Linked DNA regions of Homo sapiens. The protein of the gene in region 1 interacts with the protein of each later gene in a pairwise test. Each region holds a gene or a part of one and is shown in the gene's direction. Other genes may lie near its edges.

The links.
Region 2: the proteins of BNIP2 (region 1) and SLC39A9 interact in binary tests that used the Homo sapiens proteins (3 or more experiments, as listed by UniProt).
Region 3: the proteins of BNIP2 (region 1) and SFT2D2 interact in binary tests that used the Homo sapiens proteins (3 or more experiments, as listed by UniProt).
Region 4: the proteins of BNIP2 (region 1) and DGAT2L6 interact in binary tests that used the Homo sapiens proteins (3 or more experiments, as listed by UniProt).

What each region holds. Positions count from the first base shown.
Region 1 is NC_000015.10:59,679,320-59,686,358, reverse strand, and holds part of BNIP2 (BCL2/adenovirus E1B 19 kDa protein-interacting protein 2), read left to right. Parts: intron 1-3,844; 5' UTR 3,845-3,901; coding exon 3,902-3,951; intron 3,952-6,050; coding exon 6,051-6,118; intron 6,119-6,590; coding exon 6,591-6,767; intron 6,768-7,039.
Region 2 is NC_000014.9:69,450,677-69,457,715, forward strand, and holds part of SLC39A9 (zinc transporter ZIP9), read left to right. Parts: intron 1-2,564; coding exon 2,565-2,633; intron 2,634-4,135; coding exon 4,136-4,221; intron 4,222-5,055; coding exon 5,056-5,190; intron 5,191-7,039. UniProt on the Homo sapiens protein: Transports zinc ions across cell and organelle membranes into the cytoplasm and regulates intracellular zinc homeostasis. Participates in the zinc ions efflux out of the secretory compartments.
Region 3 is NC_000001.11:168,249,985-168,253,541, forward strand, and holds the end of SFT2D2 (vesicle transport protein SFT2B), read left to right. Parts: 3' UTR 1-3,037; downstream 3,038-3,557. UniProt on the Homo sapiens protein: May be involved in fusion of retrograde transport vesicles derived from an endocytic compartment with the Golgi complex.
Region 4 is NC_000023.11:70,180,469-70,187,507, forward strand, and holds part of DGAT2L6 (diacylglycerol O-acyltransferase 2-like protein 6), read left to right. Parts: intron 1-7,039. UniProt on the Homo sapiens protein: Diglyceride acyltransferase that uses fatty acyl-CoA as substrate. Particularly active with oleate as a substrate. Has no wax synthase activity to produce wax esters.

The sequences.
Region 1 (7,039 bases):
AAGCTAGGCTTGAACTTCTGGGCTTAAACCATCTTCCCACCTTGTCCTCCAAAGGTGTTAGGATTACAGGAGTGAGCCACTGAGCCTGGCCTAAATGTGATCTTAACATTTAATTTTTGCTTATGTTGCTAAACTGCCTGGGGAAAGCTGCTTCATCCTGGTTGGATTTACCAGTACTCCTCCCCCTTGAAGCTATGTCAGAAGGAATCAATTATCTCTTTGATTTTTAACCTAAGGTCAACAACTGTTTTGAATTTATCTTTATGACTGCAACAAGTAAGTGGCATAAGGATGTGCCACCACTACCAAGAGTCAATCTATTGAGAAATCAAGTTATTCCTGTGCCAACAGGTTATTTTAACAAATATCATCTTAAAGTGTTATTTCCCATTCTAATTTCCAAAAAAAAATACATGAACAAGAAATGGGAAGCAACAACAGTTAACTTGTGAGTCAGCAGTATCCTGATTTTCTTCGAAGAGGTTGTGGTTATATTAACTCCTTTCTTGTTTGTTTCCTGTTCTTAACAGCTGTTTGATGATAAAGTGCTTCCAAGAAACAGTACTCCCTCAATTGTTTAAATTGTTTTGATCTACCTAGTGTACTTTTCCCCTAAAATTCATGATGAAATGGTAGAGTAAATCTATCTATATCTCTCTCCCCAAGTTCTGTTTAACTAGATAATTGATTATCCTCAAACTAAATATCCATGTCTATGTGCTGAGGTATTAACACATGATTCAATATGATATTAAGGTAAAAATGGAATAAATAGGCTGAGATAGCTGAAAGACTTGGGCTGCCTGTGTTTCGAGGAGCTATTTAGTTTTTGTTGTTGTTTGTTTTGTTTTGTTTTTTGAGACAGAGTCTCCCTTTGTCACCCAGGCTGTAGTGCAGTGGTGCAATCTCAGCTCACTGCAACCTTCACCTCTGGGGTTCCAGCGATTCTCCTGCCTTAGCCTCCATAGTAGCTGGGATTACAGGCAGGCGCCACCACGCCTGGCTGATTTTTTGTATTTTTTGTGGAAACGGGGTATCACCATCTTGGTCAGGCTGGTCTCAAACTCCTGACCTCAGGTGATCCGCCCACCTCAGCCTCCCAAAGTGCTGGGATTACAGGTGTGAGCCACCACGTCCGGCCTCAAGGAGCTGTTTTCACAGAGACAAACTTGTTCCATTGGTTAAGCAGCTGAAAGGAATGGATTGTCTTCTAGAATTTCCCAAGATAAACCTTTCCTCTTACCAGTGAGGAACAATTTTACAAATAGAAATTAATATTGCTGGTGTGTAGTTTCCCACAGAATATTTTTGTTACATTTTTATGGGGTAACACATGACAAATCCTATTCATGTAGTTTAATAAGCAAAATAAGCCTAAGAGATTGAGCAAAGGTTTGCTGACCAGTGTCCATACCCTACAGGTAAGTATTATTTACTTAATTTTTATAGGCCTGTTATGTGCTAGGCACCATGGTAGGTGTTGGGAATATATTGGGTACAACTTTCAGTTTCTGCTTTTATTTTTGAAATGCTAAATATTTTTCTGAGTATTTGAGATATTTGAAAAAGACACCCAGACAACATCCTGGTGTGTTTTTCAACACACAATAAAAAGGTACGACAAGATAATAGAAAGCTTTTCTGATTATTGAATTTAGGAAAATACATCATTCGCTTTAGAGTGAGTACCAAAGACTTAAGAAAAGTTAAACATTGGGAAATACAGTAAATTAAACATCTAGAAAAGACTTACCAGTTTTCAGCCTTTAGTCATAGCATGCTTTGGTCTCACTTGAGCATTGTAATTCTAGAGTAGTAAGTATTTTCACCATTTGGGCTTGTTGATTGTAATTGTGGGCTCCTTTCTACTATTTCTGTTCTAAACAGAGGGGATTGTTTGGTAAGGTAGGTGTCCCTCTTTTTGTTTATTTTTCCCTCCCAACAGAGAAAGTGCTAAATAAGTAAAGATTATTTTAAATGTTTTTCATTAACTTATAAAAACTGCCTAGATCATTGTTTTCCCAGAGAATTAAAAACCTTACTCCTATATGTAAATGACTTTTTCAAGCAAATAAGTTGGTGTGGAAAAGTCAGCATCTACCATTTTTTTTCTGTGGTAACAAGTGTATCATCAAACATTGAAACCTTTTGGGAATGTTTAAAACCTTCTCTTGAGGGTAAGTAAAAATTCAAACTGGGAAGAGAGTCTTCCAGCCTTGGCAGAGATACAAATTTAGTTTACCTTGTGAAATCTAACACTTCAGGATATTTCCATTGTAATTTTGTCATTACGGAACATAAGGCTTTTTTCTTTGTAACTTTGTGCATCTTTTGAATGTTGACGTAGCAGATAAGATAGCTATAGGACATGACCACATTTTTCTTTTAGAAGACTGGTTGATGTGAATGGCTGACATAATTGATTTTATTTAATAAATATCTTTTAAAGTCACAGATAGTATTGTTTTAAAAATCAAATGGTATAGACGGACTTACTATGAAAAGCATTAGTCATTTTCTGCATTTCACCCTCTTTCCTCTGCTACTGGTTTTGCTCTGTCACCCAGACTGGAGTGCAATGGTGTGACCTCGGCTCGCTGCAACCTCCACCTCCCAGGTTCAAGCGATTCTCCTGCCTCAGCCTCCCAAGTAGCTGGGATTACAGGCGCCTGCCACCACATCCGGCTAATGTTTTTGTATTTTTAGTAGAGACTGGGTTTCACCGTGTTGGCCAGGCTGGTTTTGAACTCCTGACCTCAAGTGATCCGCCCACCTCGGCCTCCCAAAGTGCTAGGATTACAGGCGTGAGCCACCGCGCCCGGCCTAGTGTCAACGACTTTTAACTTTATTTTTAGTACTGCTAGTGATGCTCCGTATCTCTTAAATATGTTACTGCAAAAAGAAAAGAAAAGAACAGAAATATGTTACTGCTGTTTGTTGAATAACTTTAGACATCTATTGACTTGAATGTAAATGAACTAAATACTCGTGTATACCTCTTTCCTTCTATAGTTTTCACTGTTTTGTTGCATTGTTAACCAGTTGATCTTTACCTTACCTCAACTTCTATTTCTTACTCCATCACCAGAGGGAGTATCTCTAGATTTCTTACTTTTAAAATGAGGATATTGGACTCACGTGATTCCTTGGAAAAACTAAAACTAAAGTTCATGGCATATGTTAAAATACGTAGTTGCATAAAAGGGCATTCACCAAGTTCAGTGTTTGAAAACATATGCCGAGCTATATGAGAAGGGCATAGTATAGATATGAAACAAATCAAAAGATTGCATAATTCATTTACGGGACAAGTTATTGAATAGACTTCTTTAAGTGGCTCAGGAATTGTGGCATCAAACTATTGAGAAGGAAATATGAAAGACAGCACACCACCTGACTCTGCTGAATCATGAGTTTAAATATTATTGATTTACTATTATTTACGGTCTAGAATCAACCTCTATCCAAGGGACAGAAAATTTAATTATGAGTCTGTAATAAAGAACATTTTTATTTCTTACCCCACTTCAAATTTTTTAATATAATCCATAGTATGAAATATATTTTCAATCATAACCTGAGATACTATACATGCAACTGAAAACAAGTATTTTCACTGAACAGTATCCTTACTATAAACAGTATTTAACTTTCCCAGAATATATGTAGTCTGAGTATTCTCTTTTCTTTAAAAAAAAAAAAAAATTGCAACCCTGTAAATGAATTTCATGACCAGACCATTGTACTAAACATCAAGTATGAACTAATATATAAGATTATTACGCCTTTTCAGTGGATAAAAAGTAAAGTGGAAATTAAGTTATACATTTTTCTCTCTTCATAGGACATTGGCTCCCTGGATTATCAAGAGTTTGTAGTTGACATTGAATCCAGGCTGAGGATGGAAGGTGTGGAACTTAAAGAAGAATGGCAAGATGAAGATTTTCCGATGTGAGCAATGCTTTTAAAAGAAAACAATTTTAGAGCAAAAGTTCAAAATTTCTTTATCGAGATGTTACTTTTTTTTTTTTTGAGACGGAGTCTTGCTCTGTTGCCCAGGCTGGAGTGCAGTGGCGCGATCTCAGCTCACTGCAACCTCCGCCTCCTGGATTCAAGCAATTCTTCTGCCTCCACCTCCCAGGTAGCTGGGACTATAGGTGTGCGCCACCACGCCTGGCTAATTTTTGTATTTTTAATAGAGACGGTGTTTCACCATATTGGCCAGGCTGGTCTCAAACTCCTGACCTCGTGATCTGCCTGCCTTGGCCTCCCAAAGTGCTGGGATTACAGGTGTGAGCCACTGCACAGCTGAGATGTCACTGAGAAACTCAGTAATACAAGGCGATCATTTGATACTAGGAAGTAAAGTTTCTTCGGAACAGTTAGATTGATTCTCTTGTATCTTACTTTCCAACCAAGTATATATATAATCTTCTATAATCTTTCATTTTTGTTTTGGTCACTTAAGTTTGCAAATTTTTGCTTTTATAATAAAGTGTTTTAGTGTGGTTTGTTTGTTTTGTTTTGTTTTTGTTTTCATTTAAACAAGATCTGAGGGATTCCTCAGAGAAGGAGGTCTTTAGTTGTCTTTAAAATGTTTCTTTAATTTTGTGGCCAGGTGCGGTGGCTCACGCCTGTAACCCCAGCACTTTGGGAGGCCGAGATAGGCAGATCACTTGAGGCCAGGAGTTTGAGACCAACGTGGCCAACATGGTGAAACCCCGTCTCTACTAAAAATACAAAAAATTAGCCAGGCTTGGCGCTCGCCTGTAGTCCCAGCTGCTTAGGAGGCAGAGGCACAAGAATCACCTGAACCCAGGAGGCAGGGGTTGCCGTGAGCCAAGGTCGCGCTGCTGCACTCCAGCTTGGGCGACCGAGCAAGGCTCTATCTCAAAAAAAAAAAAAAAAATTTGTGGGTTCCCCCCCACCAAAAAAAAAAAAACCTTACTAAGTAAATTAATAAGGATTTTCTAGCTTATCTGGCCAGCCACCTTGACATGTTTGCATTTGTATTTACAATTATATTGGCACCAGGTAGGCTAATGAAAAAGAGAGCAAAGGCAGACCTTAAGTTTAAATAGTGCTTCCGTGCCGTACTTGTCAGAAGACATCCTAGTGCATAATCAGGTGCCTTAGCAGTTGGATAGCTTAGCAGTTGGACAGCTGATCGGAGACCTGAGTCACTGTTGCATATGGTGGTGATAGTAAATATAGGAATGCTGATCTCAGAAGAATTGAACCATTGTTACTGTAGTCTCGTGAGTAAAAATTGAGCTTCATACATTGCATCATACATCACATTATATTTGTGCATTTCAGTCATATTTGTTTAAAATTGTTACATGTTTTATAATTGTATAAGAGCTGTTGCATAAGGAATTTATATCTACTTTTATGTGTTACTTATATATAATAAGTGTATAAGTCAGCTCTGACAGTCAGAATTTTTACTTTGAAAGTGTAGCCAGGCATAGCACGTCACGCCTATAATCCTAGTGCTTTGGGAGGCCGAGGCAGAAGGATTGCTTGAGACCAGCCTGGGCAACATAGCAATATCCGGTCTCTACCAAAAAAACTTTTAAAATTAGCTGGGCATGTTGGTGTGCCACTGTAGTCCTAGCTACTCAGAAGGCTGAGACTTTATCTTAAACACTGCTAGGCTGGGCACAGTGGCTCATGCCTGTAATCCCAACACTTAGGGAGGTCAATGCACGAGAATCGTTTGAGCCCAAAAGTTCAAGGCCAGCCTGGGTAACATAGCAAGACCCTGTCTCTACTAAAAATTAGCCAAGCGTCGTGGCACGCACCTGTAGTCTTAGATACTCGGGAGGATCTCTTGAGCCCAGGAGTTAAGGCTGCAGTGAGCCATGATTGTGCCATTGTATTCCAGCCTAGGTGACAGACAGCAAGACCCTGTCTCAAAAACAACAACACTGCTTTATTCCATTTTCCAAATAATTATTTCTATAAGCTGTATGTTTAATAGATTGAACTTCAAAAAAAAATTCTTTCTTAATTTCTGGATTAAAAAGTATGCCTGTGTCTTCTAGACCTTTACCAGAAGATGATAGTATTGAAGCAGATATACTAGCTATAACTGGACCAGAGGACCAGCCTGGTAAGAGCTTGACACTTACTTTCATTGAAATTATGGACTTTGTGTTATTTTTTAAAACACGTTTCTTTGTCCAAAAAAAAAAAAAACTTGAGTTTTTATTCCATCATAGAAGTCAAAGTATAAGTTGAACATTGAGGAAAGCATTTTTAGAATGCTTTAAAAAAAATTCCAAAAACATACACTTGGTTTTTGGAAAGTTTTACAGTAAAGGGGTGGAGGAGATCATTTTTAGTGGTAAGAGGTATCTATAAGGTCTGCCTCTATTTAAAAGACATTGATACTTTATTGATCTCTTGCCAACGATGTAGAAGCAATAATGATCAGAATAAAAATTTTGTGAATAGGTGCTTTGAAATTATGTTCAATTAATATTATTTTTTCCCAAGAATGGGGTAGTTAAAATTTTTCTTATTCAACTTTAGCATCTAAGCATTCCTTGTTACGTATCTTTTTCTTTATTTTCCAATTCCAGGCTCACTAGAAGTTAATGGAAATAAAGTGAGAAAGAAACTAATGGCTCCAGACATTAGCCTGACACTGGATCCTAGTGATGGCTCTGTATTGTCAGATGATTTGGATGAAAGTGGGGAGATTGACTTAGATGGCTTAGACACACCGTCAGAGAATAGTAATGAGTTTGAGTGGGAAGGTAAATGTTTCACTGTTTTTAATCTGATCTTTATTAATGTACTAAGGGATTTTGTTTGAAATACATCATTCTTTCTAAAGTTCATATATTTGTTACTAAGATAGGAAATTGTGCTAACCCTTGAATATTCTCAAGGACTTAAAAAGTGTGTATAGAGTACACCAGTGGCTTTTTTCCCCTCTTATTTGCCCACTGCTCTCATGTTTTTTTCATAGCTGTTTCAAAAATATTTCTTGATAATTATGGCATGCTCTTTTTTAGTCAATCAAGTA
Region 2 (7,039 bases), on another chromosome or scaffold:
CTGAGATGCGAGGGAGAATCATTTCAGTTCGAGGCTGCAGTGAGCTGTGATCGCACCACTTCACTCCAGCCTGGGCAACAAGCAAGACTCTGTCTCTAAAAAAATAAAAATAAAATGTGTGGGCGCAGTAGTAGCCAGTAATCCTATACAGAGAGTTAAATGTAGCTTGTGTTCCATTATTCTTCTTCCTGTTTTATCTCTGAAGTCATTATTTTTGCTGGCTTTCGTGTCTGATGACCTGGTTTTACCTATTTTCTGCAGAGTTTTATGTATTATAAAATGTCAATAAAATGTATTTATTAAATTTATGCTAAACTGCAGTCTTTATAGGTTTATAAAAACTTTCTAATTTTAAAGCCTCTAATTGTTTAAGATCCTAAGTATAACTGGATGATAAGCCTTTGTATAAAAAAAGGCCAGAGCCAGCTTGCACACAGTGTAATTTGACTGTTCCTTCCAGTTCAGGGTAGCATTGAGCTATTTGCTGGCGCAGAGTGATTAGGGTCTTTAGCTTCCCTTCTTTGCAGTGTTTTAATAGGAAAATATCATTTATTAATAAGAGGTAATATCTTACTTTACTTGTATACTTTTTCCATTGTAAACCCCTTCCTTTTGTATGCTGGACTCCTAAGAAGATTAAATCCCCTGTAACTTACTTGACTGATGTTCATCTGTCATTTTACCTGGCATTTTGATGTCCCCATCTTTTAACTTTATTTACTTGTATGTTTCCTACAAGAGCAGTAACATCTTTATTTAATACACATAAATGCTTTTTTCACTCTTCAGCAAGGATTTATTAAGTAACTATTGGGTGCCTAGTGCTGTGCTACATTCTGTCAGACATGTTAAAGGAAAAGAGAGGTAGAAAATTTAATGCTTTAGCATTTACAGTCCATCTGGGGATAGAAAACATTCAAGTGAAAATGGCTTTGTATATCTGAGGTGGTGTATAGAGGAACCTTTGAAGACTGCCTGCATAGATCACTAGGTCTAGGCAAGGGGAGAGTTGCTTTGAGCTGGAATCAATTTTTTAAATTTATTTTTAATTTTTCTTGAGACAAGGTCTTGCTCTGTCACCCGGGCTGGAGTCCAGTGGCATGAGCATAGCTTGTTGCAGCCTTAAACTCCTAGGCACAAGTGATCCTTCCACCTTAACCTCCTAGATACCTGGGACTACAGGCATGCACCACCACACTTGGCTAAATTTTAAAAATTTTGTAGAGATAGGGTCTTGTGATGTTGCCCAGGCTGGTCTCAAACTCCTGGCCTCAAGTGATCCTCCCCCATCGACCTCCCAGACTGCTGAGATTACAGGCATGAGCCACCATGCTTAGTCTTCAATTTTTTATTCTTTCTTGAGGGAAGTGGTTCTGTAGTTAGACTTTGATTGATGTCCAAGTTTTGGCTTAACAAGCTGAGAAGTTCAGTATGTGCCAAGAATTACAGGTGAGGAGACTTGGGGAAAGGAGAATAAGAAGGTTTTGTTCGATGGTGTTAAGCAAACTGGTTTAACTAGACTGGACATTGAGAAATAAGTTGGAACTAGTTGATAAAGGGCTTAAGAACCTATCTAATATAGCAGTTTGCCCTGAATTTGAAAAGCAGCAGATTCTTAAATGGTAACTGACACATCATAAGGGTGGTGGGTTTTTTGTTTGTTTGTTTTTGAGACGGAGTTTCACTCTTGTTGCCCAGGCTGGAGGGCAATGGCACAATCTCGGCTCATTGCAACTTCTGCCTCCTGGGTTCAAGCAGTTCTCCTGCCTCAGCTCCCAAGTAGCCGAGATTACAGGCGCCCGCCACCATACTCAGCTAATTTTTATATTTTTTAGTAGAAACGTGGTTTCACCATGTTGGTCAGGCTGGTCTCAAACTCCTGACCTCAGGTGATCCACCTGCCTCGGCCTCCCAAAGTGCTGGGATTACAGGTGTGAGCTACTGTGCCCGGCCAAGGGTGGTGTTTTCAAACGATGAATCTGACACGGATGTGTAAGATTAATTATATTAGGGAAAAATGAGAGTAGGGAACCTGATGCTAATTTAGGTTTGAGTGATGAAAATTTAGGTTAGGGTGATGGCAATAAAAATGTGACAGATGTTAGAATGAAGATAAAGTTGCAGGATGCTAAGGAAGAGATAGACAATGACAATTAGATTGGTCTGGAAAGAAATGATCAGAGGCCATAGATCACTTTCCTTGGAATAGTAGAGGAAGAGGATTAAGGAATAGGAGGAAGTTGGGGCCATTGGGGGTTACACATTTCAGTGATTTTTCTGTTAAGGTAGGGCTGAGTCAAATGAAGAGTTCCCTCTTAGCCACCTCTTCAGGACAGGGAAATCTTCTAAGGGTTTGAAGCAGAAAGAAAAAAGATAGTGGCCGGGTGCGGTGGCTCACGCCTATCATCTCAACACTTTGGGAGGGTGAGGCGGGCGGATCATTGGAGGTCAGGAGTTTGAGACCAGCCTGGCCAACATTAGTGAAATTCTTTCACCTCCAGACCAATGTTTGAACAGTTTCTGTCTCACATAGCTTAACGCTGTCTTTCTCATTTTCACTTTAGATCCAGAAGCAGCAAGGTCTAGCAATTCCAAAATCACCACCACGCTGGGTCTGGTTGTCCATGCTGCAGGTAGGGTTGGATTGCAGTGGAACTTCTTTGTTTTCTATCGCACAGGGGAGACCTTAGTGTTTATATTTCAGGGACCGTCCTCATTGAATGCTCTTGGACTGGCCTTTGAGGAAAAGGTTTCTTAATGAAGTCCTCCAACACAAGCACAAGCTTGGTGTGCTCAGTGTCAGGGGTTTGCAAGCTAAGAATGGTTTCTATACTTTTTAATGGTTTAAAAAAAAAAAGAGAGAGAGGAACATACTGTAGCACATGAGAATTATATAATTCAAATTAAGGAAGTTTTATTGGAACACAGCCTTGCCCATGTATTTATGTATTGTTTGTGACAGTGAATTTGATTAGGGAAAAATGAGAGTAGGGAACCTATTGCTGATTTAGGTTTGTTTGAGTGATGAAAATTTAGGTTAGGGTGATGGCAATAAAAAATGGAGAAAGGCAAATGTGACTGATGTTAGAATGAAGATAAAGTTGCAGGAGGCTGAGGAAGAGATAGACAATGACAATGATCCATCTCTTTTGTTTTTGTGCAACAGTGGCAGAATTGAACAGTTGCAAGAGACCAAATAACTGCAAAGCCTCAAATATTTACTGTCTAGCTCTTAAGAAGAAGTTTGCTCTTTTCATTCTTGGCTCTAGAATGTCATCTGGAAAAGAGCCTTGGCGCTTCTGTCCTGAACAGCTCTGTTACCAGTTTATATGCAAAACACCAGTTTAAGCAGAAGTGGTATGCAGTGGAATGCAGAGATCTTAGCATTGCTGACAGGGTACACTTTAGAATCATAACCCAAACCTAGTCCTAGTAATAGAATTCTGTCAGTGGCAAAGAAAGGCATGTGAAAGGTGGTACACTGTTACCTGGCCCTTTCTAAGTATAATATGCTTTTCTAACAAATTTCATTCATTCAACCAGTGTTTACTTATTAAGTAGTAATCATCTATATAGAGTTCTAGTATCTTTATTTTATTTATTTCTTTTTTTGAGACGGAGTCTCACTCTGTTGCCGAGGCTGGAGTGCACTGGCACGATTCGGCTCATTGCAAGCTCCACCTCCCGGGTTTAAGCAATCCTCCTGCCTCAGCCTCCCAAGTAGCTGGGACTATTTTGTTTCTTAACCTATAAGATTAAGAGATGCTTCCTTTGAAATTCTTCTTTGGTATTTCCCTTGTTAGAATTTGATTAACTAATCAATGGATTTTTGATTAGTTGGAAAATTGAATGTTAGTTTTCCAATAACAACAACAGCAACCAAAATAACTAACATTGAATACTCTGGGCCAGATGCTATGCTCTTTACATAAGTTATCTCATTTAATCCTCATGAAAACCCTAAGAAATACATACTTCATTGAACACATTTTAAAGATAAGGCTGGCATGTAGAAAGGTTAAGTAACATTACTAGATCCAGCTGGACCTGACTGTAAAGCTCATACACTCAACCACTACACTGTTATTGTTGTTGTTGTTTATAGTATTTTATGTTTCCTTGTTTCCAAATATAGCTGATGGTGTTGCTTTGGGAGCAGCAGCATCTACTTCACAGACCAGTGTCCAGTTAATTGTGTTTGTGGCAATCATGCTACATAAGGTAAGCAACATTTTGGTGTAAGGTTTGGTATTGAGTGTATTCATAATTAAAATTTCTCATGGTCCTTAATGTTTTTCCTGGAATGGGAACATTTTCTTCATTTCATAATTGCTATTCATTTTGGAAAATTGAATAAATCTGTTCATAGCTTCTTGTTCCCATTTTCTTAAGCTTTTCCTTGAGGGGTTTCAATTTTTTTGTGTAGACATATACACAAATTGTCAAATTCTCCTCAGATTTTTATATTTCATAGTAATAATTTCTGTTCAAAAGTATTTTTCTTTTCTTGACTGTTTCTCTTTTTTACTATCCAAGAAACACACAAATAGGATCTTTTCTTGGCTTAGAACATTAATTCCTAAGAGGCATAGCTCAGCGTTTGTACTCTGCCTGGTTTTGTTTTTTGGTTTTTTTTGTGTGTGTGTGGGTTTTTTGTTTTTTGTTTTTGAGATGGAGTTTGCTCTTGTCACCCAGGCTGGAGTGCAATGGTGTGATCTCGGCTCACTGCAACCTCCGCCTCCTGGGTTCAAGCGATTCTCCTGTCTCAGCCTCCCAAGTAGCTGGGATTACAGGTGCCCACCACCACACATTTTTGTATTTTTAGTAGAGACGGGGTTTCACCATGTTGGCCAGGCTGGTCTCGAACTCCTGACCTTAGGTGATCCACCCACCTCGACCTCCCAAAGTGCTAGGATTACAGGCATTAGCCACTGTGCCTGGCCTTTTGTGAGTTTTTCTTTGTATGAGAAATCATAGTCAAATGGCATATACTTCTTGATGTAGAAGCAACCCATACTTCTAGAATGATAATAAGAGATGATTTTTTATTTCCAGGCACCAGCTGCTTTTGGACTGGTTTCCTTCTTGATGCATGCTGGCTTAGAGCGGAATCGAATCAGAAAGCACTTGCTGGTCTTTGCATTGGCAGCACCAGTTATGTCCATGGTGACATACTTAGGACTGAGTAAGGTAAGCTAATCTATTCCCAGCTATCTAAACCAGTGTCTTGTGATCTCTTAGAATTTATGATCTCTTAGATTGAATTTTTCCAATACATTACTCTCTCAAACTAAAGATAAAATTAGGAGTAAAAACTATACAGGGTAAATATCTTAATTCCAATGCGTCCTCTTCATATTAGCATTTTCTTATTCATTTAATTTGAAAACTTCTTCCCTATCAATCAGTTCCAAGAATATTTGCATAAATATGATAGCGCTTCAATATTTAAAATAGTATAACGTAACCAGCCATGCTAGCTTCATTTGACAGATATCTAATAAGTCAAATCTGTCCATATTTAATGTGAGGTAGACACCTGAAGCGTGAGTAACAAGCCACATAGCCGCTTTGAGAAGAGCAGCAGCTGGGCAGAGATTGCTGTCAAGAGTTTAAAAAACTGACATTGATTACTGAAGTGATAGAGTAATCTTTTAAAGGGAACAACATACTGCTCACTGAAAGAAGAGAAGGCTTTTCAGGTAAATGGAAAGGGTTTTTATAACACACTGTTAGCAACTAAGATCAACAAACCCTTCCTTAACGGGAACTTAGCCATTCTTGGTCTCATTTTTCACGTTCCTCCTCTTCTCCCAGCTCTCACGTCCCCAGATAGTAACTGTACAGTTCTTTCTATTGAATACTTTGTACTGAACATAGCTTCAGACCTGAGGTAACATGTGCTCTTCTGACTCCAAGCTGGACCTTCCCATGCCTTATAATCCTGTCTGTAGCTCTGAGCAACAACCCTCCGCATTTTACCCAGATGTCAACTGGCAGGCAACTGGAGGAAAATCTTAGAAGCAAACTGACTCAGGGCTAGTTGATGGGAACTGCTTTCCCCAACACCCTCTCTAAAGGTCATTGATTCTTCTGAGCATCAGTCAATTCAGTATTTGGCAGTAAAACCCATATTAATAGGAACATGTGAAAAATGAGATAAAGAATGGCTAAGTTCCTGTTAAGCAAGGGTTTGTTGATCTTAGATGCTAAGAGTGTGTTATAAAAACCCTTTCCATTTACCTGAAGAGCCTTCTCTTCTTTCAGTGAGCAGTATGTTGTTCCCTTTAACAGATTACTCTATCACTTCAGTAATCAGTGTCAGTTTTTTAACCTTTTGACAGGAAGGTGCTGATAATTCTGGAGACATGGAGTTACTTGCTGCATCTATGGGATGTCCTTTTCTTAAAATTTTAATTAGTTGTCTTAGTCCATAGGTCTACTTTTTTAACAGAAAAGGTTGAAATTAGTTTTATAAAGATTAGCTTATGAGATATACATATATATACACACACACACACACACACACATTTTTTTTTTCCTTTGAGATGGAATCTTGCCTGTCACCCAGGCTGGAGTACAATGGCGCAATCTTGGCTCACTGCAACCTCTGCCTCCCAGGTTCAGACGATTCTCCTGCCCCAGCTTCCGGAGTAGCTGGGATTACAGGCGCCCGCCACCATGCCCGGCTAATTTTTGTATTTTTAGTAGAGACAGGGTTTCACCATGTTGGCCAGGCTGGTCTCGAACTCCTGACCTCGTGATCCGCCCACCTTGGCCTCCCAAAGTGCTGGGATTACAGGCATGAGCCACCACGCCCGGCTGCTTAAGAGATATTTCTAGGCTCTATGAGGTCAACTACTGCATCTTGATTACCACTGTATCTCAAGCACCTGGCCCAGAGCCTGGTGCATAGATGATGCTTGTTAAATATTAGTAGAATAAATAAATTTATGTCTGAAATTTAATATCTGCAATAATATATTGTTGATTCTATCTCAAGAATAATACAAGCCAAACCTGTTGAACCAGCACTTAA
Region 3 (3,557 bases), on another chromosome or scaffold:
ATTCACAGTGACTGCCCAGTGAATGGTATTGCCTCCATCCTCTGAGAAGGTAAAGAGCCTATCCCAGACCCCACGAGTGGAGGCGTCAGGGAGGGGTTCTTGGCAGGAGATGGGTCTTGTAGAAAGGCTTCTGCTTTGCTTTCACTCACGGCCTGTGGCCAGTTTGCTCAGACAGCTCCCATCAGGACACCATTGGCAGCTTTTGCATGACCCTGCCTCCCAGGGTCTTCCTGCGTTTTTCCTTAAGTTGCCTTATTCTTTGGTTGTTTCCCTACTTGTTTTTGTTAGACTGTGGGAGGAAGAAATCCATTTCAAATCTGCTGAAACCTGTTACCAAGCAACAGCAGTGATTAAAAGCAACCTGATGAGTGAGTAAAGAATTAGGGTTTCAGACCTGTAGTTAATGATGGTCTCTGTCTCCCTGCTGCCCTGCATTCCCTTCCCTTCCGTTCACTGCTGGGTGAAGGAGGGCTTGCTGCATTTTGGAAGTTAAGGGAACCAATAAGGTGACTCTTTTGCAGATTGGAATATGGTGCTCAGCCAGCCATATGGAAGCACTGTCCTGGCGTGATCTGCCCTGGGCTGTTGGCTCTCTGAGTGCTGTCTTGGGAGGAGCACTGCCCTTCAGAACAGAAGAGATGGCTTCCAGTCCCCTCTCCCCCTTCTCCCAGTCTCTCTGAGGCTGCTTGTTGGGTATTGGGCGTGCTGTGTACTAACTCACTCCCGTCTCTTGTCTCATTATCTGAAATGCATCCCCTTTTGCAGAAAGGGCTCAAACGGAGCCTTCAGTTCTGCTCCTCTGCATAGCCGTAGCTCAGATCCTAGCTCAAGATGTCTTGTCTGGGAAGGGCAAAACATGGTCCCCAGTGTAGCATTTTCACTGGGTTGATTATCTCAGTGGTGGATCATCTATCACCCTTGTGTGGTGACTTTGTGAATTATCTGCCTGAGTGCCACTTCCCTTCCACCCTAATCACTGCAGGCTCAGGGAGCAAGAAATAAAATCATGAAATGCATTCCAAATAAAATTACCTTTTGGCTGGGTGCAGTGGCTCACACCTGTAATCTGAGCACTTTGGGAGGCTGAGGTGGGTGGATCGCTTGAGGTCAGGAGTTCAAGACCAGCCTGGCCAACATGGCAAAACCCCATCTCTACAAAAAATACAACAGCAAAAAAATCAGCCAGGCTAGCTGGTGTGCGCCTATAATCCCAGCTACTTGGGAGGGAGGCTGAGGCACAAGAATTGCTTGAACCCAGGAGGTGGAAGTTCAGTGAGCCGAGATCGCACCCCTGCACTCCAGCCTGAGCAACAGAGTGAGACTCTGTCTCAAAAATAAATAAAAAAAAAAATCACTTTTTGATACTTCTGTTAAAATAGATAATAAGGAACCATATCTTAAAGTGTGGAGGATCTGGCTTGGCTTCTGTTTTTGATAGCTCTATGAAAGTGACAGATTTGCATCATGAGACTTAGTGGAATGAATTGGGAAATTGAAGGGCAGCCCAGTGGCTATGGATTCTATTTTCTATGGGACTGTCTACGCCAGGCTTTATTTTCTCTTTGCTCAGATAACTTCTGACTAGAGTCGACGGTAGGATTATAAATGGTTTAAAATACGTATTCTCAAACCTCATTTTCAGCATATAAATTTTTAAGAATCAGTGTTTAAAGGTACGTGAAACCATTTGCTAGATTTTTGTCCTAGTTTTTTTTTTTTAATTTAAAAATCTTAAGTTTTTTTTAGTAAGCTTAAGATGTCCAGTAGTTTATTTGCAGACAGCATTTTTAAAAAGTGAATAGATGTTTAACTGAAGTTAAATACAAATTTATGTCTGTGTAACTCTTGGTAAGATATAACAAAACCTAGACATCTAAATTTTTTGGAAATTTTTATTTTAAAAGTTTGTTGGGAGGTAAAATTGTGTGACTTTACCTTCTGGTTAATAGTTTTATAGTTAAGAAGAAAGTCCAGCGAAGTTTACTTGATCTCAGTTGCACTCAAGAATAGGGGATTTAGTTCCACTTTGGTTATTTTCACTTCTACCCTAAATTCATAGTCCCTGATACTTAAGCTTTACCCTTGGCTTACCAGTTTTCATTGCAGCGAGTAAATGGGGAGTAGCAGAGCCTTTGTTAATGTAAATTGACAAAAAGTATGTCCTTTTCTAGCAGGAGCAGATAAACTGATAATGGTCTTAGAAATGTAGAAAATGATTTTTTGTAGACAGGATGATCTGTCTAGATTGTAGCAAATGATGGTACATATTCACAACAAAGTTGTGCCACTACATTTAATAAACAGCCACAAACAACAAAAGGACAACTGGTCCCCGATATAAATGGACTAGCTACCTGGACATAATATCCTTGTGAGGCATCCTTAAAGGACAAATTGCAGCTGGTATTTGGGTGAATGTTGTTGCTCTGTGCCTGTTGAATGTCCATGCTACAAGAAGTTATGAGCCTTGTTCTAAGTACAGATGAACCTTGTATTTGTGTAATCTCCCAAGGGAGAGCTATGGTTTACATTCAATTTTTTGGTCTTTCTGCTATGAAACGTGTTTATTTTGCCTCTGTCAATGTGTTTGCAACCTTAAGTAAGGAAAGGGAAAAAAAAAATAGCCCTCTGAACTCTGATCTTTTGCCGCTTCTGTAGATTTTGATTGTGAAGTTGGGAGTGAGGACATTCAAAAGCCCATGGTGAATGCATATGCCTTTAGAATATTGTGCCTGTTTTAAAATGTTTGAGCTTTTAAAATACGTTGTTAAAACATGAATCCATTTTTGTAATTGTATAAATACTCATAACTAATTTTGAATGCTACTGATTGTGTAACTGAATTTTTGTATCCAAAAATACATTCTTGAGTACTACTTTTCCTACCTTGAAAATCTATTTCATTTACTAAATATTGTTTTCTTTATGCTAACTTAACTTTAAAAGGAATGTTGCCAAGCTGTCTCTCCTCCCCCATCACAATTGTTAGTTTTTTTTGCTTTCTTTCTTCAATAAATGATAGCATTATGATCTTTAATAAATCTAGTGTTGTCTCTTACTCATGTCTGTATTTCCAGGAGTCTTTAAGCCAAAGGAAGACTGTAGAACTGTAAGAAAAAACCGTATCTTTAATTTGAATTCTCAGTGTGTAGCACACATTATAGGCACTTAAAGATGTTTTGGGGGACCTAACCTGACATGTAGTCCTCTCTTTTAAATGACTTAGGGTTTCACATGGGTCTAGGGACAGTTTGGAAGGTTTTTAAAAAGTAAGACATTTCCTTAAGTGTTTATTTTGGAAAAAAAATACACACACACATACATACATACATACATACATACAAACAAATAAATATATATATTTTTGAGATGGAGTCTCACTCTGCTGCCCAGGCTGGAATGCAGTGGTGTGTTCTTGGCTCACTGCAACCTCGGCCTCCCAGGTTCAAGTGATTCTTGTGCCTCAGCCTCCGAAGTAGCTGGGATTACAGTAGCGCACCACACCCAGCTAATTTTTGTATTTTTAGTAGAGACGAGGTTTCACCATGTTGGCCAGG
Region 4 (7,039 bases), on another chromosome or scaffold:
AAAAATAAAAATAAAAATAAAGAATAAACGGGATTTTTTTTCACCTTCATTTTTAAAAGTTATTTTTATTGTGGTACAATACCTAGAACATAAAATTTACCGTTTTAACCATTTCTAAGTATGCTCTAAGTACATGTCATTAAGTACATTCACAATGCATGGCCACCATCCATCTCCAGAATTTTATCTTCCCAAACTGAAACTCTGTATCCATTACACAATAACTCCCTAATTCCCCCTCCCTCCAGCCCCTGGCAACCACCATTCTGCTTTCTGTCTCTATGAATTTGCCTATTCTAGGTACCTCATATAATTGGAATTATTATTCCAGTGTTTGTCCTTTCATGATTGGCTTATTTTACTTAGTATAATGGCTTTAAGGCTCACCATGTGGTATCATGGGTCAGAATTTATTTCCTTTGAAAGGCTGAGTTATACGGTGCCTTGTGTGGATATGCCACATATTGTTTTCCATTCATCTATTGATGGACATTTAGGTTGCCTTGACGTTTTGGCTATTGTGAGTAATGTTGCTATGAACATAGATGTACAAACATCTCTTTGAGACTCTGCTTTCAATGCTTTTGATATATACCCAGAAATGGAATTCCTGGATCACACAGTAATTCTGTTTTTATTTTTATTTTTTGGAATTGCCATCCTGTTTTCCTCAATGGCTGCACAATTTCACATTCCCACCAACAGTGCACAAGAGTTTCAATTTCTCCACATCCTCACCTATACTTCTTATTTTCTGTTTTTTAAATAATAGCCATCCCAATGGGTGTGAGATGATCTCATTGTGGTTTTGCTTTACATTTCCCTGATGATCAGTAATGTTGAGCATCTTTTCATGTGCCTGTTGGCCATTTGATTTGACTTCTTTTAGACTGATTAGCTTTACCATTCCATTTGTCTTTCTCTTCTAGTTTAGGTGCTATACATCTTGTTTCTGTTCTTTTAGTGATTATGCTAGAAATTACAACACAAATCCTGGGTCTTGAAGGTTACCAAGGTAGCTTCAGTGTCCAACAGGGCGTGATGCCCACAGAGGTGCCTAAGACATTCAAATATGTTCAATCCAACAGTTATAGATTAAATACTAATGATATGATCTTGGGCTGTCCTTGCTGTGAGATCCTTGCAGCCTCCTTACTATCTAGTAACAGAGATAAACCAATCATTCATTCAATCATTGTCCGCATTTTATGTGCCAGTGCTGGACATATACACAGATCACTATAATGTAAGACAGACTGTGGTGAGTGAAAGAGCCATGACAAAGTGATATTAGGGTATCGGAATAAGAAATTATTACATAAGTTGAACAGATCAGGGGAGACAGGAAAGGGAATCACCGTGGAATGGCAAACAGGACATGAGTTCTGGAGTTCATCAGACTTAGATGGCAATTAGCTATGTGACTCCAAGCAAGTACTGCAATCCCTCTAAGTCTCAGTATCCCCATCCTCTCAGTCTGGTCCATGGGAAATGCTCCTACAGAAATGTCTGCCTTCCTCCCTTCCTTCCTCCTCTTCTTTCTCGCCTATCTTTCCTTCCTCCTTTTCTTTCTCACCTTCTTTCCTTCCTTCCTTCTATCTTGCTCAGAGCCTCCCTCAGTGCTTCCCCTCCTTCCCAAATGATGTTCAGAATCATAGCTGATTACTGAGCATTACTGGAAGTAATGGGGAGGAAATAGAGAAAATGGAGGAAAGGCAGAGGGACAAGAAGGAAGGAGGAAGCAAGAAGAGAGGAACGAGAAAATGGCTTGGAGGAGATTTGGAACACAAATATTCATGTCCTTAAAATTAGGCTGTGGCTCTGACAGCCCCTCTGAGAGCCAGCTTTCATTCAGAGGATGGCTTTCCCTCATCTCTTCCGGGCTTGTATCACCATCCCCCTAAACTATCTCAATATCCTTTTTCCTGATCGTCTAACCTCTGATCTCCACCCTCTCCAATCTATTCCAGTGCTTACTTCTGGAGGTCTTTCAAAAGCATCTTTTTTTTTTTTTTTTTTTTTTTTTTTTGAGACGGAGTCTTACTCTGTTGCCCAGGCTGGAGTGCAGTGGGGCAATCTCGGCTCACTGCAACCTCTGCCTCCCGGGTTCAAGCAATTCACCTGCCTCAGCCTCCTGAGTAGCTGGGATTACAGGTGTGTGCCACCACACCCAGCTAATTTTTTGTTTGTTTGTTTTTGTTTTGAGGCAGAGTCTCGCTCTGTCGCCCAGGCTGGAGTGCAGTGGCGCGATCTCGGCTCACTGCAAGCTCCGCCTCCCGGGCTCACGCCATTCTCCTGCCTCAGCCTCCCGAGTAGCTGGGACTACAGGTGCCCGCCACGATGCCCGGCTAAGTTTTTTGTATTTTTTTAGTACAGATGGGGTTTCACCGTGTTAGCCAGGATGGTCTCGATCTCCTGACCTTGTGATCCGCCTGCCTCGGCCTCCCAAAGTGCTGGGATTACAGGCGTGAGCCACCGCGCCCGACCATTTCTTTTGTATTTTTAGTAGAGACAGGGTTTTGCCACGTTGGCCAGGCTGGTCTCGAACTCCTGACCTCAGGTGATCTGCCCTCCTCAGCCTCCCAAAGTGCTGGGATTACAGGCGTGAGCCACCGCCTCAAAAGCATATTTGATTACATCCCTCTCCTGCTCAAAAATAGTCAGTGGTTTCCCATTGCCTAAGTGATGATGTATAAAGGTATCAGACTGGGCATTCAAAGCCCTCCTCCATTCTCTGGTGTTAACCCCTTGCCAGCTCGTCCTCCTACTCTTCCCTACGTGATTGCCTTGCGTTCCAGGCAATCTATTCACTAAACAAACAGGAAATGTACTCTCCCACTCCTTCACCTCTGCTCCCACTACTCCCACTACTCCTGCCAGTGGAAAGATGGCATGATAGCTCTTCCTGGACTATCCAGGGACAGCGCCTCCTTTTAGATATTACTCAAGTCATATCTTCTCTGTAACATTTTCCAGACAACCCAAGACTATATCGCCTCTGAAAGTCTAGAGCATTTTGTAAGAATGGCTGGGTAGCAGCCATTATATCTTTGGTGCCCTCTACCCAATAAGCTCCATGAGAACAGGAGCCCTTTCTTATCATTATTATATTTCATGCAAGACCAAGCTTGACACTAACTTGAAGGTCTTCCAGATTTCTTCTTCCTCAGCAGAAATCTTTAAATTCACTCTTATTCTTTTTTCTCTCCCTTGGACATCCTTTTTGGGTGTGTGGGCCTGCCCTCTTTCTCTGGTTTCTGGTACTGTAAAAAATAGAACAGGTTGGGTGCAGTGGCTCATGCCTGTAATCCAAATATTTTTGGAGGCCGAGGTGGGAGGATCGCTCGAGCCTGGGAGTTTGAGACCAGCTTGGGCAACACAGTGAGACTCCATCTCTACAGAAAAAAAAAAAAATCAAAAAATTAGCCAGGCATGGTGGTGCATGCCTGTGGTCCTAGCTATTGTGCAGGCTGAAATGGGGGGCTCCTTTGAGCCTAAGAGGTAAAGGTTAGAGTGAGTTGTGATCACGCTATTGCACTCTAGCCTGGGTGACAGAGTGAGATCCTGTCTCAAAATAAATAAATAAAAATAGAACATAGTCTTCAGACCAGTTCTGTCACTTACTTGCTATGAGACCTTATGCAAGTGAGTCTCTGTTATTTTCTATGTGACCTTGAGCAAGTAAGTCATTCACCCTGTACCATAACAGAAACAGCATAGTACCTGCCTCTCAAGACTGTTCCAGAGATCTTTGAGGTGAGAAAATCCTCAATACATGTTAATTTTCTTCCTTTTAACTACCGAAATTGACTACTTGGAGCCCAACCACCACACCTGATAAGATACTACCAACCTTGTCAATCTTGCCACTTGATCAAGAGAGGAGTGACAACCACTCCTCTGAGGCAGACACCTTAGACACTGACTTTATTACATCTTCAGGAAGAATAATGATAACTAAAGCAGATACAGGCTTTTTCTTTTTCTTATTTTCTTTCTTTTTTTTTGGAGACAGAGTCTTGCTCTGTCTCCCAGGCTGAGGCTGGAGTGCAGTGGTATGATCATAACTCACTGCAGCCTCGAACTCCTGGGTTCAAGCGATCCTCTTGCCTCAGCTTCCCGAGTATCTGGGACTACAAGTGTGCACCACCATGCTTGGTTAATTTTTAAATTTTTTTGTAGAGACGAGGTCTCACTATGTTGCCTGGGTTGGTCTCGAACTCCTGGACTCCAGGGATCCTCCTGCCCTGGCCTCCCAAAATGCTGGCATTACAGGAGTGAGCCACCATGCCTGGCCTAGACTTTGATGCATTCCCAGCATTCCCACATACCCCATCACGGCATCTTTCATTAATCCCCTTCCATCACCCCAGCATCAACTCAGCTGCGTTGGGCTGAAAAATTCTACCTCCTTGGTGACTTTCAAATTGGTATGTGAAATAGTAGCCTATTTCAGGTTCCCATTGGCTTTCATCTGAATGCCAAAACTCTTAGCTGATCTCTTTGCCTATAGTTTCTCTTGCTCTCACAGTTATTCCAGATTATCTTCCTGAAACAGACACGATCATGCTACTCTTCTGCTCTCTGCTTACTAACCTTTACTGGCTATTCATTTCCTTCAGCATCAGGCCTAATCTCTCCAGTTTCCTTCCCAGCTTCATCTCCTGTACCACGGCTTCCTTAGGCTGCCTGTGTTTTTGCAGGTAATGATGTTACTCCCAGGCCTTGGACTCTCCCATCTCCTGGACTTTGTTCAGGCTCTTCTTTGTGCATGGAGGACCCTTCCTCTACCAATCCATCTGACAAAAATCCTACCTTTCCTCCAAAATTCAACTTTGAACCTTATCTTTCACAAGAAACCCAGAGCTTCTCCAAGACAGGAATTTTGTTTTCCACACGTATTAATGTGAGTTAATACACATGAGGTACTTAAAATAGTTATTGGCACATAATGAATGCTATCTACTTTTTTTCCTACAGCTTGGAGTAAAGATACATGATCTCTCTGATTCTTAGTTTCTTCATCTGTAAAACGAGATAATAAAATTATCCACCTATGAGGACTGCAAGAACATTAAATGAGATAATATACATTAAGTGCTGAACAGAGTGCTGTTTCACAACAAATGGTCAATACATGGTATCAAGGACCATGCTTGCATTATTTTCATCATTTCCATATTTACTCCTTTCACCCTCCCCTTTCCAGTTCCCAACCCTGTCCCCATGGCTTTTAACATAGAGATTTCATATGAGGTAGGCTCATCAATGTTTACTGAATTATTAAATTACCTGTCACTCCTACAAGTTCTTATATTTATAGTTTATTTGGATCCAACAAGTAATCACAAAGCCACAGAAATTCCTCTTTGACAAACTACTTTTGTTTTTTTTTTGTTTTGTTTTTTTGTTTTTTTTTTTTAAATTTCTGAAGGCATTGAGCCAACTGACTAGATTAGGCAAGCATTGCCAACATTCAGATTTAGGTCATTGCCCCGAAACATGAAACATAATGTTTTCACCCATAAGAATTATAGGTTTTCACCTTACACTGGAAATAACTCGTTGCCTATATCCTTACACACACATGCACACCTTATAACTTCAGATAGCCTTTCCTTGTTTGGAATACGGTTTCTCTTCCTATTAACTTTCACCTGCAACTTGGAGAATTGTGAAATTGAACTTCTTCCTTTACTATAATTCAATGTAATGAACATTTATCATAAGCTATCTCTCTGTGTTTGGCACTGTGCTAAAGGCCAAACTTACTGTCTGATAGGGAGAGAGACAGACATATGAGGTACTAATTACACCATCAAACAAAATGAACCAGAACCAGAAAGAAGCACGAGTAATGTCTTGGGAGTGTGCAGAAGAGGGAGTCCTCAATTCTGACCGGGAGATGAGCAAAGATATCACAAGGAAGTGTCATTTGAGCTAAACCATAAAGCCTGAGAGAATTTTGATAAGCAGAAAGTTGGAAAGAGAGTAATAAAAATAAGGGAACAGTATCATCAAAGGCACAGAAATGTGAATTACATGGTGAGTTGAGGGAATGGGAAGTAGACAAAGGTGGTCGGGCCCGTTTCCCATACTTTAGCCATTTGTGTCCCATCTTCTGGCTCTTTCCACAGCTGTGTACCACCTATGCTATTATTACTTAACATACTTTTCCTTCAAATTAAGTCATCTCTGTAGCCTAAATTAATGTATTTTAACAGGAAATTTTATATCGCTACCATGAATTTGCTTTTATTCTCTATGCATTAAAATAACTTTTTATCCATACACCACCTTGGATCATCTAATGTCCCTACAGGGCATGGGAACACTAGGCTACGAAACACTTTGAGAAATACTAGGCTGCAGCATAAGGAATGTGAGTACGGCTACTGAGAGATGAGGCTAGGAAGACACGTGGGGCTAGGCCAGTGAGGGCCTTGAATACCAAGCCAATGTGTTCAGACTTTATTCTGTCAGCAGTTGGAAAATATTGATGGTTTTGGAGGAAGCAAACAACATTATGTGATTGTGCTTTTTAAAAATTTCTGGCAGAGGTGTGGGAAATGGATTGGAGGGGAAGAAACCCATAGCTGAAGGGCAGACAAAAGGCTGCAGTCCAGACTAGAAAAAAATCAAGTCCTGGACCATAGCAGTAGCAATGGGGACAGAGGCAGGAAGACGGATAGGAGAAGTTTTTTGTTTGTTTGTTTGTTTGTTTGTTTGTTTGTTTGGAAAGGGAAAGAAGTCAAAGATGGCCTAAAAATATTGAACCTATGACATTTATCTTGAGGCCTGAAAGATGAATAGGAACTAGCCAGACACAGAGCTGAAGAGAGAGTTTTCCAGGCAAAGGGGACCGCAGGCAGAGAAGCCCTGAAGCTAGAGAGCACTTGAAGGAGCTGAAAAAAATAGCATGGTGGAATGCAAAGAACAAGGTGGTGGCCAGAGACTAGATCACCAAGATCTCCTAACCCTTCTAAGCCAGGGTTAGGAGACTGGACTTGATCCTAAGGGCCACAGGAAACCATATTTA